2 separate regions of the Homo sapiens genome follow, and region 2 is linked to region 1. Evidence: fine-mapped expression QTL. A gene starts in region 1. The other region holds a variant in brackets. All regions are shown on one strand. Distances are between the middles of the regions.

The links.
Region 2: its variant is fine-mapped to the expression of PTPRD in pancreas (GTEx, PIP above 0.99).

What each region holds. Positions count from the first base shown.
Region 1 is chr9:10,610,447-10,615,834 of GRCh38, forward strand. It overlaps PTPRD (protein tyrosine phosphatase receptor type D), which reads right to left and starts at 2,556. Exons shown (of 46, transcript NM_002839.4): 1 at 2,242-2,556; 2 at 1,952-2,059. PTPRD-DT (PTPRD divergent transcript) reads left to right here and starts at 2,760. Exons shown (of 3, transcript NR_110696.1): 1 at 2,760-2,980. RefSeq lists a silencer at 2,501-2,710.
Region 2 is chr9:10,338,447-10,343,834 of GRCh38, forward strand. PTPRD (protein tyrosine phosphatase receptor type D) reads right to left here. Exons shown (of 46, transcript NM_002839.4): 3 at 2,517-2,571. Among named protein-coding and RNA genes, the nearest start is that of PTPRD, 270 kb to the right of the region's middle. The variant C/G (reference allele first, on the strand shown) is at 2,789.

The sequences.
Region 1 (5,388 bases):
TGAACCACTGTTAAATTTGCCCTACTTAGGTACAATCTTCCCCTTTATTTTTCAATAATTAAGTTTTTTTTTTTCCAAATATCAGATAGCCTCTCGGACATGTGAGGTCAGAAATGAGTAGAGGTTATGTGCTATAATCCAAATCTGATCAGCCAAGGGCTTCATTTTAAATCACTTAAATTCATTTTTAAACCAATAATAGAAATGTTAGCTAAGAGCAGTAATATGTCTAAGAAAACTCATTTGGATAAGAAATTAAATAATAATCAAGAAACAATGACACATCTTTCTCAAATGATTCCATATATGATAACTTCATGTCAACCAATTCATTAACTGTTCTATTGTCCTGTCTCATTACCCTAAAAACTTATGGCCCAAGATATTTAGAGCTTTCAACACTGAGTAATCAAAACAACTCTAAAACATCTCTACTTTTTTGTAATAATTGTAACTTAGCTTACTCTTATAATTTCTAAAACCAATCCCCCATGAATACAGATGCTTTTATATACTCACTTAAGTAAATAAGGAGGTAAAAATATACTCATTCTACCATTATCAACAATTAAATACAAGGAAGCCCTTAGGTATAATTAATAATAAGCTGCTTTATTGAAAGAAATTCTCTGAGATAAGTACTTTTACTTTTCAATCTGGTTTTTAACTTATAAGGGGTTTTTATTAAAAAGTATGTATTATACTGAGAAAGAAATTAACAGTTAAAGATAAAAGGGATAAACTTTTTCTAATCACTATTAGACTCTAGTCAGTATAAGTACTACCATGTCAAAAAACTTAGGATTTGTTAAAAATCAGGTCTGTTTTGTCTAAGTTGCAACTCCTACTGTATCTACTGTATATGTAACAATGCAAGAAGAATTAGATTCAGAATCCATTTGGCAGTGATAAAGAAAAAAATGCTGAAATGTTATTGATTCTCTCCCTCTTGTGCAAAACAAACTGAGTCAACTATATTTTTCCTGACATAACACAAAGGTTTTATTTAGATATTACAAAATATTGGCAAATGTTAGACTACATGTTTTTTATATATATGTATAATGAACTTATTAACCCTTTTGTAGAAAGAAGAGTGTCCTACTTCTGTAAAAAGAAATGCTACAGCTACTGACATGGTGATGTTAGCCCCAAGAGGAATACTGCCTGCAAAAGTTTTTGATGCAGAGATATTCAGCCTTAGGAGACACCTTAAACCTGTCACTGGCTGCTGAGCCCTGTCAGAGTTTATAACCCGCTGTGTCAAAGTCACAGTCTCAGCCCTGCCCTCTCCAAAGTATTTTTCACATTCTCTCTCCAAATTAAGTTCATTCTAATTCTCCAACTATTCTAGTTCCAGGATTTTCCTCCAATTATTATCTCCTTACAGGCATGAAGAAATCGCAACAGAATTTTCATCTGGTCTTTCAAACCATCCTTATTAACTTTCCCTTTTCCGCCCCCCCCCCCTTTTTTTTTCTAGAGCTTTTCAGAACTAAAGATAAAACAACCAACCAACTGAAGTCAGAGTAGGGTGGGAGTTAGCATGGATTAGGGCTGAGGTTGAAGGTGGCAGGAGAAGTGAGCCAGTAGGGTTAGATTTTTCAAGCTTTTTCTAGATAACCACCCTTAAATCTTAGAACCAACCAATGTTTAACAAAGCAGGCTTCCAATAGCCCTTGAACAATAAACGTTTAAAAATCAGTTTTCCAGTAAGGCTGCCCATACTGATCCCATATCGAAGTCTTCTAAGGGCTCTTCCAAAAAAAAAAAAAAAAGAAAAAAATGCTTAGCGAACCACTTCTCAAATAGGAGCTACTGAAGTTATATAAGTCAAGTTATTCCCAGGTAAAATGAATAAACTGTCCACAGCATTGGACATTGGGCATTGAAAAGCATCAGCATATGCTTCACTTTAGAGAAAAGAAAGACAGAAGCACAGTTTACTTACTAAAGCAGCCGCTCCAGTCCTCCTTGGAAACCCTGAGGAGTCTTCTCTTTTCTTTCCTACCAGTCAAATAAAGAATTGTCTTTCTATTCCACACAGGCCCAGAATAAACTGCAAAAAGGGATGGCACATGCACAGCAGCCCGTCAGGGTTTGGCTTTGGTGGGGTGCTTCGATTTCTGATTGTTTCAAAAGTGGGATCTTCTTTTCCGGAGGGAGGGGGCAAAGGAAGAAAAAGAAAGCGCGCTCGGAAAGCCGGCTTGGGTCCTGCTAATTATTCTGAAGGCAAAGTACCTGCACTCTCCCCGCCGAGGCTGGCTGGCGGCGCCGCGCCGGAGGGGAGGAGGCTCGGGAGGAGGAGGAGAAAGAGCAGCGGGAGGACTCGGGCTGGGAGGGGAGCGCAGGGTTGGGGAGGCCGATGAGCGGCTCCCGGCTCCTCGGAGAAGCAGCCGAGACGGCAAGGAGGAGGCGAGGCTCTGTCGGGGCGAGGCGCTGCCCCCACGCGCTCCGGCCGCCGGCTGCGGGCGCGGCTGGGCGGGGAGCCGAGGCGGCCGCTCCCGCACTCGCTCGCTCGCTCGCTGGCGCTCCCTCCTCGTCTCGCTCGCACTCACAGGCACACACCCCACGTCTCCAGCAGCTGCCGCTCGGCCTCACGCACTCACCTGCATTTCCTTAACGAGCCACTTGATGGCTGCCAGCGGCGTGGGCCCCGCTCCGGCGGGCGGGGGCCGGGGCGGGGAGAACGCGGCGCGGGATGCTCCGAGCGCCCGCTGGGGAGAGAAGCGGCGGCGGCGGCGGCGCTGCGGGCGCGCCAGATGGGGCGGGAGGAGGGGAGACCCGGCACCCACCGGCCCAGAGCTGCCTGACGCGGCCTGGGCGGACCCCGCCGCCCGGGTGCCTAGGCACGATTCCAGGGATCCAGGGTAAAGCGGTTCGCGCGGGAACAGGAGGATATGTCAGGCACAGGCTATTCCCCATCACTATAGCCACAGAGGACTGGTCCAGATGCGGATCCCGATCTGTGCTTCTTCAGGTGTTCGCGTGCTTTCGGTTATTATTATTATTATTATTTTCCGAGGGAGGCTGTCGGTAACACCTAAGGGGTAGTGGGTGTTAATAGCTGGGGGACGTACATTTGATTTGCAATGGAATCGATGCTTATGAAGAGCAGACTTAGGGAGGTGAAGGGCAGGGGCACAGGGGTTGCTTGGCGGAGGGGGTGTACTTCGGCTGAGCTGGATGGAGTTTTCAGTCGGGGCGCTTGGCAGTCTGGCTGGGCTTGAGGGAGGGATAGAGCTCTGCCAAGGTGGTAGCTGAGAAGGGAAAACCTGTACAAGAGTTGCTGAGAATATGCCTCGCTGCAGAGGAGAGGACATGGATGCAGGGAGCGGATTCTTCCCCACCTCCTCCTTACCCCAAGGTAGAGTGGGGTATCGGAGTGCATCAGATGTGGTGTACCACAGACTCGGGAGACAGGGGAGGAGGAACTTAGACCCCCAGCGAAACTAGAAATAAGGTTTGGAGCTGGGGGGAGAAGAAGGGGCAGGATGAGAGAAAAACAGCAGGAAGCTTTTTGTCATTTTACTATCTTTCATGTCTCATCAGAGCATACAGCTATAGGCAACAAATGCTCTGTCTCTTGATAAACAGAGAGCAATGTCACCATGTCGGTGCGTTTTCTAAAAAGCCAAAATAATTATCCTGTTTGTAATATGCAACACAGAGCATTCCAGGTACCATCTGGTCAAAGGTTCTGTAAGCACTGTAGAAGAAAACAAATAAAAAAAGAACAACGAAAAACCAGTTATCCATCTACTTTCCTTATATGTCAATGATCTAATCGCAGAAATGTCACTTTCTCCCGAAGAGAAATAAAGCTTAGTCACTATAGGTGGAATTTTCCCCAGGGTCCCTTCACCTTTTTCTTTTCATACCTTCTCCACTGCTTGCTGTGTCCCTTTGCTCTTTAAAAGGGACCCTTCTCCTGAACCCACGCGCTGCCGGGTTCCCTGCTCAGCCTCCCTAAAGCCACGGAGCCTACCCATCCAAGAAGGTTCCCATGCACAAACAGTCATCATCACTTAAAAAGGTTCTTGGAAATGACAAGATATGAACGAAAAAAAATTACACCATATGTGCAAGTGTGTGTGCATGTGTACATATTTTTGTAATTATACAAAGCACTTGCCCCTCTTACGGTGCTGTCTCCCCAAGATGATGATGACTGACTCATATTCTCTCTCTCTCCCTCCCTCCTTCTCCCTTTCTGCACAAATACACACCACTCACTCCTGTCTCAGTTCCTTCCTGTCAGTGTTCAATAATGGTTTTACATGAACTTTCTGTTAGGCAGCCTCTGACTACCAAGGGCGAGTTGGAGTGGATTGGTAGGAGGGAGGCTGGTCTCAATGATGCCGCTCTGTTTCCTGCCATCCCTCAGTCATTACATACACTACTGTACTTAATGCCAAGTAGAAGCAGAAATGATTTCCTCTCTTGCTAGTCACAATAATATATTTGTCCTCCCTCAGAAACACAAGTAATTAATAATAAAAGAAATAATGCATCTTGAAACCATGGGAAGAGCAGATGGAGGCTGATGTGGTTGTGTTAGTCACCTTTTCTGTTGTTGTTGTTGCAAAGACAACGTGACCACCTCTCCCTTTCTACTGCTTCTGGTGGGTTAAGCAAAGCATTTGGCCCTTTTACTGTATTCTCTTTTCCATCTTTCCCTTGACAATAGTTTGTGTGTTTTAAGTAAAGATTTCATTCTGCCAACCCGCAGGAAGCTTTTAACAAGATGCAGCTGAGCGTGTCGATATCTTATATCTTTTTACTGCTGCATGGGGGTGTTCAGCAACTTGAAACTCTTCTCTACTTCAGCTCCAGGCTGGGATCTCACAGAGACAGTGCTCCCTGGGGCTGATTTACTCTTGCTCCTGTACAACTATCCTTTGGTGTCCTCTGGAAAACAAAGAATATTTTAAACAATGGAAGAATCAGTGTTATACTCAATCCCCTTCCTCCTACCTCCTCCCCACATAATAATATCACAAATGTTCAATGGATTAGCTTATTGTAGAGATTTTATTATTAATTACATCTGAGAATTGGATTGAGATATCTTACTTGAAGGTGATTGCACCAAGCTTAAGGAGTTAAGAAAATTTTATTATCTAACTACCTAGCTACACTTCCTGTAACATTATAATTTATTTCTCCTTCTTCAATAAAAAGGCAGATGCAAATGTCCGCTTTAAGTTATTGCCATATATTTACTCTTAAAAATCAGTAACCTATCTGAATTGGTTGTTGTCAGTGGACCACGTGTTTAAAACAACCATAACAAATGTAAGATAAAAATAACCAAAAAGGGACAGTGAAATTGGGCCAACAAAGCATGGTCCTGAATATCAGTTGCTTTGAGGTTCCCTTTATTTT
Region 2 (5,388 bases), 270 kb before region 1:
ATTTCAACAAATAATTTTTTGTGTGCCCAGCACATACTGTGGGTATTCAGTGTTCATCCCAAAACCCCACAAGGTTGGCCTATTTTGACTTTTATCACATCTATAGATAAAGGTGTAGTGTTATCTTTCTTTCCCACCCCAAACTGTACTCATCTTTTTATTGCAAATACCTGGCTAAAGGAAATGTCAAACCTTATATATAGAATTTACTTGAATAGGTCCTACGTCAAAGTGCTGCTTTCTTAGAAGCTCAAAACTGTTAATATGTATTGACTTAGCAAAAAGAACTCTAATGGCAAAGGCATTGCTTTTGAGAGAGATAGCCCATGTTTGGAACAGGAGAAAAAAAATACATATTTTTCTCTAAGAAAGTGAGGAGAGATTCAATATAGAATGGATAAGCTTAGCAGATATATAGCTTATAGGATAAATGAATATAAATTAAATAGAGTACATTGCTAAAGAGGACCTGGGGTCATAAATATAATGTAGACAAAAAAAAAAATTCCAACACAGAAGAAAGATTCATGGATATAAATTCAACTGAGCAAGAACAAAGTAAATTGTTCAGAGTTCAGCTGTCATTACTTGCAAGATCATAGACAATAAGCAGCAGAGTATCCAGGTGGTATTGTTTAGCTTTATTAGTGGATACATGTAAGTCCTGGAAGAAGGTTTGTAAAATGAGGAGAGTCCTGAAGATTAAAAAGGAATCCTCATTAGGAGAGAAGTTGATATTGGTCATCTAACATTAGGGCAGAAAATTTTCAGACCACTTTCTTCTATAAGTGTTACAACCATGCAGTTGACATTTTAGGAACTAAATCAGTCTTAATTTGCATAAAGGCTTTTTCATTGTTGTTCTTTTGTTATACAATCAAAATGCTTTAGCATAACACACCTTCTTCCTGTTTGTTTTGCTCTTCAAGAGAAAAGTAAGCATCCCTTACTTTTCCTTCCCTTCATCTGAAGTGCAAATTTAAGGTAAACAGGAATCTTCAAAGCACAAAAAGCATTTTCACTCTGAAAGACTTCTTATCTTGGAAGAAATGAGATTCCAGGATAATAAAAAGCTATCATGATATCTATTCTCTCCCTTACTTGACAGGGATTTTCAAGATGGATCGGCAAGATAGAAAGGGAATTTATTCATTCTACCAATACTTATGAAGAAAAGGGCATTTGGGATGAAAATGGATATTGGGACCTCCTCAAAGTTGCTATAGAAACCCGGGTGATTACAGCTAATGGTGTGGGGAGAAGTCCTGTTATCTTTAAGAGATTAACAGGAAACCTTGGTCTCATTATTTTTTCACTCCCCACATTGCTCTGATGATAGCAATGTACAGATTAGAACCAACAAACAACAATAATAACAAAACAACACCTTCAATATCTCCTTGTTTATAAAGTAAAAATATAATTTTGAAAATTGAGCTTCAAAAGCTTCCATCAACAAATCCCACTCCAACCTTCTGAAATAACACCTTATTCTTCATAACTATATTCTTTGATTTAGCATATGCCATATTGACAATATATCCCTATTTATTTCCACCTTCAGGTTTCTGTTCATACTCTCCTCTCTAAAGAAAATGATTTTATATAACTCCACATAAATACATCTCATCCAAAAAAATGCTAATTACTTGTTCAATAATTATTTCATACTACAAGAGTTAAAGTAGCCTCTGTCTTCTAAATGCTCATTCCACATTATCTGGACAAGTTCTCAATGTCTACCTGTGATACGGTTATGTACATTTGTTGTCAATGTTTTTCCCCATGTTTACAAATATCATTATATGTAATGTTCTCATAGCGACCAGTTTTCAAAGAATTGCTAGCTGGGAGTCAATAGCAAAAGCATACCAATCTTTACAGCATATACAGGGTCAACCCAAGTGGATCTGTCACGATTTAGTTTTCTCTTAGCACCTTGAACTATGCACTGTATCACACAGCTGGCTATATCACACCAGTGTGAGATTATATACTATTTGTATTGGTCTCTTTTTGTTTTTTGTTTTTGGTTTAAGTACAAAATTGTATGATGCCAAAGGTGAACATCTTCAAAGTCAGAAATATTCAGAATTAAAAACTAGCTCAGATATTAAATAGCCCTACATATTTGGATAAACTACCAACCATCCTAGAGCCTTAATTTCTTTCTACAACAGAAATAAAACCATTTTTCTTACAATATTTTTGTGAGGATTAAATAAGATGATTCACATTAAGAATCTAGGACATGGAAAGTCCTCAAATGGATGCCAACATCTCATGAGCAATACTGTCAGAAGATTCCATAATTCACTTTGAAGATTTCTCCAAAGTGTATAGCAAGACTAAATCCAGGTGGCACACCATTAGTGCACTGACCATATGTGATTTAAGCAGGGATAAGAACATGGTTTCATGTTTTAAATATTATTTCTCAAATGAGAAGCTATTATTATGCAATGGATAGAATTCAGTTTCTTATTATCTATTTCTAGTTCACAGATATTACTTACTAGTTGTGTGACTTTGAGACAGGTCCTTTACTTCCTTGATTCTTCACTTCTTCACCTGCAAAAATGAGGACATTGGGCTAGATCCATTATTTTACATTAATTTTTAAAAGTATTGGTTTCTTCATTCTGTGAATAAAATTGTATGGAAGTACAAAAACTGAAAGCATTAAAAGCAGAGTTGTTCTGAATAATACAAGGAGAAAATCTAGGACCTCCAACTTTCGGTATTGATTTGTCCATGGTTAACAGCAGATTCATGAAAAATTGTAACA[C/G]TTAATCAGTTACTAAGGCTTACTCAGAAAGTACATACAAGAAATGCCAAACGCTAGGCCACTATAGTCACAGAATATTACCTAAAGAAAAATAGCCTTTGAAGCTCCAAGAATTGTGCTGAGTACATTGTCTAATTAGCTGAAAATTATAAAGTGAAATTATACAACTTTAATGATTGAATAAAGAAAAAAATGTGGCTCATAAAAGATAATATAGCAAACAAATTAGAGTGATCAGACATTAATGTTTTGCGTTTCAAAGATAATATTGGGTGCAAAATTCATATGGATGAGTTATGTCTTCACACTTTCAATATTGTTAAGCATGTGTCAAGATGGCCACAGTATTGTAGAATGGTCAGTATGCAAAAATTATGCAAGAAATCATGTAAGAAATGAAACATGTGGCTTTAGAGTTGATAGATGGTTTTAACATTGTAACATTATAGTTCTGGGCTATTTACAAAACCTCTCTAAACTGCTGCTTATCTGTAAAATGAAAATAGCAATTTGGTCTTCTTTTCATTTGTTTGTTATTATTAAAGGATATTTGATATAGAAAGCACCAGCTGATATTGAGTTCCTAAGTAATATTAATTCTTTTTTCCCCTCTCCTTTTATGTAGTTCCATATGTATTGTTAATATTACTCAGCATAGAGTGTTAAGCAATCTTAGCAACTCAACTTTTTAATGGTATCTTTCACAGTGGTTTCTAGCTTTCTAACCTTTTGAAGCTGTTAAAATAAAGTCAAATAATGATACTGCTGTGGCTTAAGTGTATGCTAGGATCAATAAATTGTGGTTCTTGGAATAAATTGCAATTAAAGGGATAGCACTTGATTGCTTGACAGTAGGTAGTCTTTTTGGCCCAAAGAAACTTGAGTATCAATCTGATTCATAAGCTAATTAGTATGGACTTCACTTTCATTTCACTGGAAGATCATCAGATCGTATTGACTCCTGTCCACATCATGAGTGCGCCCTTGATACTGGCCTGTGTCACTTATAGGTAACAAATCCTCTTCACTTGTTTACTTTGCTTATTCAAGATTATAGTAAGCATTTTTAATCAAATAGAATATAGAAGAAATTTAACATGTTTGTAAATAAGCACTCTAATAGCTCTAAAAACTTCAATACTATTGCCTGCCTTTTTACATTTCTATACATTTAGGATAAAACATGTCTTAATTCAGATATGATAAATGTATCAACATTGTAAAGAACGATGACTGTTACTGAATCTTTGTAGCAATAGAAAAATTTATATAACAACTAATTATACACTAGAAAACACAACAGGATCGATATTTCATGGTAAATTATTTGAATTAATCTAAAAATAAAGAGTCAAAGTATTGTCCTCAAATGTATAAATACACTTACTTAGAGTATATTATTTTATTGTTCTTAATTTTCCGCACCTTCTATTCCATGTGGTGTTTTATATGTAATAAATTCCAGCATATACCTGTATAACTATTGAATGAATATAAGCCATTCAGAGACTAAAGCAAAGTAAGTTAAGCAATCCCTTGGACTGTAAATTCCATTAAGATAAATAATGTGCTTGTGTGTTTTCTTCCTCTATATTATCTACTTACCAGCATATGTCCATCCAGAGATTAAATAAATGTTTTGAATGAACAAACTAAAAAGGTTGGATTTCTGAAAATGACTGTTTAAATATAAAGTATCTTCTCCATTTAAATAGCCTGACCTCCATACCTCTTGTTTGTTACACACTTTTTATTTTTTATACTTTAAGTTCTAGGGTACATGTGCACAACGTGCAGTTTTGATACCTAGGTACACATGTGCCATGTTGGTTTGTTGCACACATCAATTCCTCATTTACATTAGGTATTTCTCCTAATGCTATCCCTCCCCCAGCCCCCGACCCCCTGACAGGCCCTGTTGTGTGATGTTCCTCACCCTGTGTCCAGGTGATCTCCTTATTCACTTCCCACCTATGAGTGAGAACGTGCGATGTTTGGTTTTCTGTTCCTGTGTTAGTTTGCTGAGAATGATGGTTTCCAGCTTCATCCATGTCCCTGCAAAGGACATGAACTCATCCTTTTTTATGGCTGCATTATATTCCATGGTGTATATGTGCCAAATTTTCTTAATCCAGTCTGTCATTGATGGACATTCTGGTTGGTTCCAAGTCTTTGCTGTTGTGAATAGTGCTGCAATATACATATATGTGCATGTGTCTTTATAGTAGCATGATTTATAATCCTTTGGGTATATACCCAGTAACGGGATTGCTGGGTCAAATGGTATTTCTTGTTCTAGGTCCTTGAGGAATCGCCACAATGTCTTCCACATGATTGAACTAATTTACAGTCCCACCAACAGTGAAAAAGTGTTTCTATTTCTCCACAACATCTCCAGCATCTGTTGTTTCCTGACTTTTTAGTGATTGCCATTCTAACTGGAGTAAGATGTTATCTCACTGTGGTTTTCATTTGCATTTCTCTGATGGCCAGTGATGATGAGCATTATTTTCATGTGTCTGTTGGCTGCATAAATGTCTTCTTTTGAGAAGTGTCTGTTCATATCCTTTGCCCACTTTTTGATGGGGTTGTTTGTTTTT